2 linked regions of the Homo sapiens genome follow. The protein of the gene in region 2 purifies or fractionates together with the protein of the main gene of each other region. This does not show direct contact. Each region holds a gene or a part of one and is shown on either strand. Other genes may lie near its edges.

What was found.
Region 1: the proteins of WDFY1 (region 2) and NTPCR fractionate together in Homo sapiens (co-fractionation; one large-scale study listed by BioGRID). This does not show direct contact.

The regions. Positions count from the first base shown.
Region 1 is NC_000001.11:232,967,319-232,971,136, reverse strand, and holds part of NTPCR (cancer-related nucleoside-triphosphatase), read right to left. Parts: intron 1,229-3,818; coding exon 1,019-1,228; intron 1-1,018. UniProt on the Homo sapiens protein: Has nucleotide phosphatase activity towards ATP, GTP, CTP, TTP and UTP. Hydrolyzes nucleoside diphosphates with lower efficiency.
Region 2 is NC_000002.12:223,938,773-223,942,590, forward strand, and holds part of WDFY1 (WD repeat and FYVE domain-containing protein 1), read right to left. Parts: intron 1-3,818. UniProt on the Homo sapiens protein: Positively regulates TLR3- and TLR4-mediated signaling pathways by bridging the interaction between TLR3 or TLR4 and TICAM1.

The sequences.
Region 1 (3,818 bases), on a different chromosome or scaffold from region 2:
AACAGAGGGACAACAGGGAAAGAAAGGCAAGAATTTAGACAAAGTGCCAGCAATGCCATGAGTCCCTTCCGACTGGCTCAGACGCTGCCACTGGTCAACAAGCCCTAGCCCCTCATCTCTCACATGTGGTCTACAGCAGTGCTTCTCAAAGTGCGGGGGACCTAAAAACCACATGAGAACTTGCCAGAACAGATCATGGGGCCATCCCCCAGAGTTTGACTCCTTGGACCAGGGCAAGGCCCACTCCCAGGTGATGCCCATGCTGCCATTCTGCAAGCCTCACACTGAGTGGCACATCCTACAGATGCACTAGTGAATGTAGCAGCCACACGAGACCACAGAGCACCTCAGATGTGGCCAGTGTGACTGAGAATCCAAATGTTTAATTCAATTTAAATTTGATTATTTATGTGATTAAATAAATAATTCAATTTAAATATGATTAAATTTATTAAACATAAATAGCGAGATGTGGCTAGTCGCTACTGTTCTGAGCAATGCAGAGAGCACATTTCCCTCACTACTGGGAAGTTCAACTGGACGGTGCTGCTCTTCAGCACCTGGAAGCTGTGTCTCCCAACACATCCACAGCCTCTTCTCCCCACAAGCACAAGTGGGTCAGCTTTAAAAGGGAAATCTTTAAAACAAAACAAAAAATATTTGCCTCTGTATCCCAACCTGGCGCCTTTCAATCTGAGAAGAGATAAGCTTAGAACAAGCACCTTAGCTCAGGCAATTCTGATGCCAGAGAGGTCCTAGTGTCTGGTGAGGAGATGGAAGAAAAAAGCAGCCAGAACAACTGGGACCGTCAGGAGGCCCCCCCATAAGCGAGTTTGTTTTTTCATCAAGTAGAGGTATAATTTAAGTTCTATACATTTCTAGAAAATTAGACTCACCTACATTTCAGCATGGAAGGGAAAAAATGTTAACTCAAAACCAAAGAGATATTTTAGAGCCATCTGCTATTTTAGATCATCTGCTCCATTTCCACTGATTATGGAGGACTGGCTGTACTCACATTAAACACCTTCACATCCTTTCTGTTTCTGATTTCTTCTACAAGAGCCAGTGGCTTTCCTTTAGGAACTGGGATTGTGCCAAGGATTATAGTCCCTGGGGTAGACAGCGTCTGACGAACAGCTTGAATGAAAAGCTGACTGAAGAGCTCCATCTTCCCAATCTCATCGATGACGCACACTCTTTGCCCTGGGCCACTGCTGCAGTCGGCCTGAGAATGACAAAGACTTTCACTGGGACATCAGAGTCACATTAATCAAAGGGCCCATGGGTCCCACTCCCCAATCACTCACCAATGAGGTAAAAAAGACAGAAACCTTTTTACTGGATTTCAAAAAGTGACAGCATCCCACAGACCACCGCTGGTACTGTGTGGGAGGGGACTGCACAAGGGTGAGTCCCAGGAGCTGGGAATCATTAGGACTCTTGGAAGCTGGCAGCTATGCCTGTCACCAGTGGGATGTTCAAGGAAGTAACGGACATAAATTGGAATAAAGTCATGAGAAAGAGAATCTGAGATCTAAAGGATGCAATTGTACTTACTTTTTTTTCCCCTTTAGCCAAGACTTGTTTCCTTTTAATTTTCACTTTTTTCCAACAACGCTTATGGACCAGATCATGAAATACACAAACATCTACCTAGAGCAGTTATCTCCCCCCCAGCACGTAGGGAATCTCATATGGCTCAAAATGGAAAAAAGAGGCCATTATTATCAACAAAGGCTCCCATGCTTGCTGTCTCACTTTTTTTAAGCCTGAGGTATTTGGGTGCCACTTATTTTCTGGTTGTATATAAATATAAAGCTTGATCTCTGTCTTGGATCCCCTCTCTCGAATCACTCACTCTGGGGGAAGAGAAGTGCTATGCTGTGAGGATACTCAGGCAGCTGACGGTGAGGTCCACGTGGTGAGGCACTGAGGCCTCATGCCAACAGCCAAGAGGAAATGAACCTGCCAGCAACCACATGAGCAAGCTTAGAGGCAGGGCCCTCCCAGGCAAGCCTCAGATGACCACAGCCCCAGCCAACAGCTTGACTGCAACCTCAGAACCCCAGCTAAGCTGTACCTGGATTCCTGATCCTCAGATACTGTGTACAATAATGTGTTTGTTGTTTTAAGCTGCTAAATTTTGAGATAACTTGTTCCATAGCAACATATAACTAACACACATGTCCTCTATAGAAAGCCTTCCTGGGGAAGGCTGACAGGACTTTGGTTGATTCTTCCCTGGGAGGGACAAAACAGAACATGTAATAAACACTTCAATGAATGGTGAATGACAAATACACCTTATATATGTTTGTATACATGATTATTTTGAAAACTGTATGTAAAGCTGATTTACAAAGTATTCTTCACTACAGTTCTGATTCCTTAAATGATGACAGCAATATAGTCCTAGAGGGCATGTCTGAGTTAAGCTAGATTTTGTTCAAATTCCAAAAGCCAAAGCAGCATATGGTACAGTGTGGCTGGTGGTAGGGATCAGTGGCAACCAGGGGCAGCCAGTGACAGACGGGGCTGCGGGCCCAGATCCTAAAGGCCTTCGAAGGCACACACAGAGGTGGGAATCTTCTCCCACAGCCGAAAGAGTCTAATCCAGGGAGGATCACAAGTTGTGCTAGAAAGACTGCTGGCTGTGGAGTCAGAAACAAATGTTAGACTCCTTTTGGAATAGACAAGATAAGATAGTGGGTGTCTAAACCCCAGTTGTGATTGCACGGAAGCAGTACAGCAGTGTTTTTCAGACTTTTAAGTAAACAGTACTCTATTTTCCTACTGCATATTGTACACTTATGAAATATTTTTCCATTCATTTTATTAGCTAAAAGATCAATAAGGAGTCCACTGTAATCACCCAAGAGAGGTCTGAACAATCTCCGCACTTCTGTGTTTCTGACATGCTTCATTTTTGCCTCTCTATTAAGTTTATCTGTACACACGCCTGGTCTCCCCACTTAGGGCAGGTACATGGTTGTCCTCGTCCGCATCCTTCCTGGGGAACTCACCGATGTCCCAGAGCTGAGAAGTGGGGAGCTGAAGGAGCAATGTCACCCTCCACTGGTGGGGTCGGGGAGAAGGGCAGAGCATCTATGAAGTAAGTCACTACTTATTCCAAGTTTTTCCTCCAAAACGAAAGCCATATTTGGGAGAAATAAAACAGCTATCAACCACCTGTCTATGATAATAAAAACAGACAACTGTACAAGAAGGTTTCTGTCTTCCTGGGGGCATGCCACTCCAACTGACCCGACTGTTCCCAAGTGCTGTGGACATTTTGCTGCCCCCAGAGACGAAGAGTAATTGTGGATGCCATTCCTCTGGAGGCTGTCATCTAAAAGCCAAAATAAAACTTATTCTGGCACCTCAAAATGAGTTTTGGAAGGTGCCAAATCAGACAAGAAGTGATATGAAAGAATGTGTGTACACATGCACATGTATTTATTTGACTATATACATGAGGGTAGTAAAATGCACGTGGCCATGTGTAAATACACACGTACAGGTAGAAAGTGTGTGGCTCTTCAACAACCAGCCTTCCTGCAATCCTCTAGAACATTCACCAGTGAAAGCTCATCAACATTTATTTAAGTTTCAGCACAAAAGAATTTGGACACACATGTATACATTACTTTCTACCAATTGGAAATCCTCATTTTAAAACCTTAGCTTACATAAAATCCTCAATCTGTCCAGAATTGGGGAATTTTATAATCCAAGAACTTCAGGAATCTCAAAAATAAATCTGTGATTTTTAATTAAAAATGCAAGTTATTCATATTCAGTTGAGAGAAAGATGT
Region 2 (3,818 bases):
GAACTAGGTGGCTATCTGTGAATGACCCCAGGTAAATATATCCCAGAAGGTGACAAAAAAAAAGAGGATAAAATGTAAGCAGTATTTTTTTTTTTTTTTTGAGACAGGGTTTTGGTCTGTCACCCAGGCTGGAGTGCAGTGGCACGATCTCAGCTCACCTCAACCTCCGCCTACCGGGCTCAAGTGATCCTCCCGTCTCAGTCTCCCAAGTAGCTAGGATTACAGGTGCACACTACCATGCCTGGCTAATTTCTGTATTCAGTATTCTTTCTTGGTGGTTGTACATAGGCAAGCACAGTGACAAATAACCCTCCTTTCTTGTAGAGCCGTGGTTCTAAGTGTGGTCCCTGGACTAGCAGCATCAGCATCAACGTCACCTGGAAACTTGGCAGAAATGCCAACTCTCAGGCCCCACCTGACTTTCCAAATCAGAAACTCTGGGGGTGGGGTCCAGCAACCCGAATTTCAACAAGACCCCCAGGTGATTCTGATGCACATTCAAGTTAAGGAACCAGTGTTCTAGAGAGGCCAGATAAGTACATGAAGCCCGGACTGGGGTTTCTCAATATCAGCACTATTGACATTTGGGGCTCAATAATCCTTTGGTGTGGGGCATAACAGGATACTGAGATGCATCCCTACCCTCTACCTAGATGCCAGTATTAGTTACATACAGTATTAGTCCGTTTTCACACTGCTGATAAACACATGCCAGAAACTAGGTAATTATAAACAAAATGAGATTCAATGGACTCACAGTTCCATGTGGCTAGGGAAGCCTCACAATCATGGTGGAAGGCAGAAGACATGTCTTACATGGTAGCAGACAAGAGAGAAATAGGAACCAAGCCAAAGGGGTTTTCCCTTGTAAAACCATCAGATCTCCTGAGACTTACTCACTGCCACGAGAACAGTATGGGGGAAACTGCCCTCATGATTCAATTATTTCCCACTGGGTCCCTCCCACAACACATGGGAATTATGGGAGCTACAATTCAAGATAAGATTTGGGTGGGGACACAGCCAAACCATATCACCTCCCCCACATCATGACAACCAAAAATGTCTCCAGATATTACCAAATGTTCCCTGGGTGGGAAAACCACCCCTGGCCCAGAACCACTGGCCTAGATTTTACAAAAGTGGATACTAACTTCAGGAAAACCTTCATACCTTTCACTTTTCTTCTCAAAATGCTCTCAGCTAGTTCTCACTGCTTTTAGCGTTTGTAAAATGAATTCACTTCAGCTGGACCCTACTTTAAATGTAAAAAGCTACTGGCTCATGCCTGTAATCCCAGTACTTTGGGAGGCCGAGGCGGGTGGATCACGAGGTTTGGAGTTCAAGACCAGCCTGGCCAAGACGGTGAAACCCTGTCTCTACTAAAAATACAAAAGTTAGCTGGGTGTGGTGGCGGGTGCCTGTAATCCCAGCTACTCGGGAGGCTGAAGCAGGAGAATCGCTTGAACCTGGGAGGCAGAGGTTGCAGTGAGCCAAGATCATGCCACTGTGATGCATGCAGTAAATAAAGATTACAAACAGTCTCATTTGTTCAGGCCAAATTTTAGCACCAAACGAGTTTTCAGGTCCAATTTACACACACACATACACACTTCTGACGTTTAGAATGCACTAAATTTTGGAACTGCTGATAAGAGAAGGTGACTGTACCTACCTTATAGGGAGGAAGTGTGAGGATTGGATCCAATAACACATAAGGTCCAATTCTGTACTCGTAGAGAAAAGGGACTTTCAACAGGTTAGCTATTGTTATTTCTAAATTACAAATTCCGATCATATCATTTGCTTGTTTTGAACTCTTTGATGGTTCTACACTGCCTGCAAAATAAGGTCCAAATTCCTTATTTCTTTCTTTTTTTTTTTTTTGAGACAAAGTTTTGTTCTTGTTGCCCAGGCTGGAGTGCAGTGGCGTGATCTCAGCTCACTGCAACCTCCGCCTCCCAGGTTCAAGTGATTCTCCTGTCTCAGCCTCCCAAGTAGCTGGGACCACAGGTGTGTGCCACCATGCCCAGCTAATTTTTGTGGGTTTTTTTGTTTTTGTTTTTTGAGACAGAGTTTCACTCTTGTTGCACAGGCTGGAGGGCAATGGCATGATCTCGGCTCACTTCAACCTCTGCTTCCTGGGTTCAAGTGATTCTCCTGCCTCAGCCTCCCAAGTAGCTGGGATTACAGGCATGTGCCACCACGCCCAGCTAATTTTGTATTTTTAGTAGAGATGGGGTTTCTCCATGTTGGTCAGGCTGGTCTCAAACTCCTGACCTCAGGTGATCCACCCGCCTCGGCCTCCCAAAGTGCTGGAATTACAAGTGTGAGCCACTGCACCCAGCCAATTTTTGTATTTATAGTAGAGATGGGGTTTCACCATGTTGGCCAGGCTGTTCTTGAACTCCTAACCTCAGGTGATCTGCCTGCCTTGGCCTCCCAAAGTGCTGGGATTACAGTCGTGAGCCACCGCACTTGGCCCCCAAAAACTTTTTTTTTTTAATTTAAAAAACAAAACAAAACCGGACACTGGGTCCTTCTAGCTCTCAGTCTTCTCTGTTGCTATTGTCACTGCCCACCTTTTGCTCTGGTCACTTAGAAATAGCTATGGTTCTTTCCCTCTTACAATTCCCTCCTGTCCTTTCCTCCTTCCTCTGCCTGGGATGAGGGTGCATCCCTCCTTCCTTTCTAGATGCCACTCCTCTATCCATGAAGACCAGCTCAACGACCTTCTCTAGGAGGCTGTCCCCAAACCCCGGCCCCAGCCCAAAGAGCCTCCTCTTCCTGTGTCTTCCCAGCACTGGATGCTGAATACATAGGGGCCATCTCTTCACTAGACTGTTCAGCCCTTGGGAAAGAGCAACTTAGCTGTCAGCTGTCTCTCCCCCACAGGTCTAGCATGGGCCCCACACACGTGCTGGGATTACAGGCGTGAGCCACCTTGCCTGGCCAAGGTAGTGTGGCTTTTGACCCCTGTTGTGTCCTCAGGGCCTGACACTCAATAAAAAAGCTTTTTCTAAATGAATGAGTAAATGAGTGAAGAACGTGACACGTATTTATGACAATGTGAAAACAAACCACCATGGCTAACACCAAGAAAAAACCCACGCCCATGTGCTTTCATTACATCTCATGAAGTGTAGCACCTACTAAAAAGGTTGTTCTCCCTTCAAGGAAGTTGCAAGAGCCTGAACACAACAGAAACCTCAAACGCCAACCCCATCCTGGTCCAGTCATCTACCTGGGCTCTGCAATAACAGTGGTGCACGAGTGAAAAAGTGAGCAGATGCAAGCTCCCCCAGAACGTTTCAGTCCCAGAGCAGCTTAGTAATCACTTTCCAAAAACATTTATCAGCACTGCTCCTGACCAGCAATCTCAAATATTTAGCAACTTACCCAAAACGCATGATTCATGAATAAAATATTTGACCGAATAAAGGCTGCTAACTTTTTTTTTTTTTTGATACGGAGTCTGGCTCTATCGCCCAGGCTGGAGTGCAGTGGCACAATCTTGGCTCACTGCAAGCTCTGCCTCCCAGGTTCACGCCATTCTCCTGCCTCAGCTTCCCGAGTAGCTGGGACTACAGGCGCCTGCCACCACACCTGGCTAATTTTTGAATTTTTAGTAGAGACTGGGTTTCGCCGTGTTAGCCAGGATGGTCTCGACCTCCTGACCTTGTTATCCACCCGCCTCGGCCTCCCAAAGTGCTGGGATTACAGGCATGAGCCACTGCGCCTGGCCAAAGGCTAACTTTTTTTTTTTTTTTTTTTGAGACGGAGTCTCGCTCTGTCGCCCAGGCCGGACTGCGGACTGC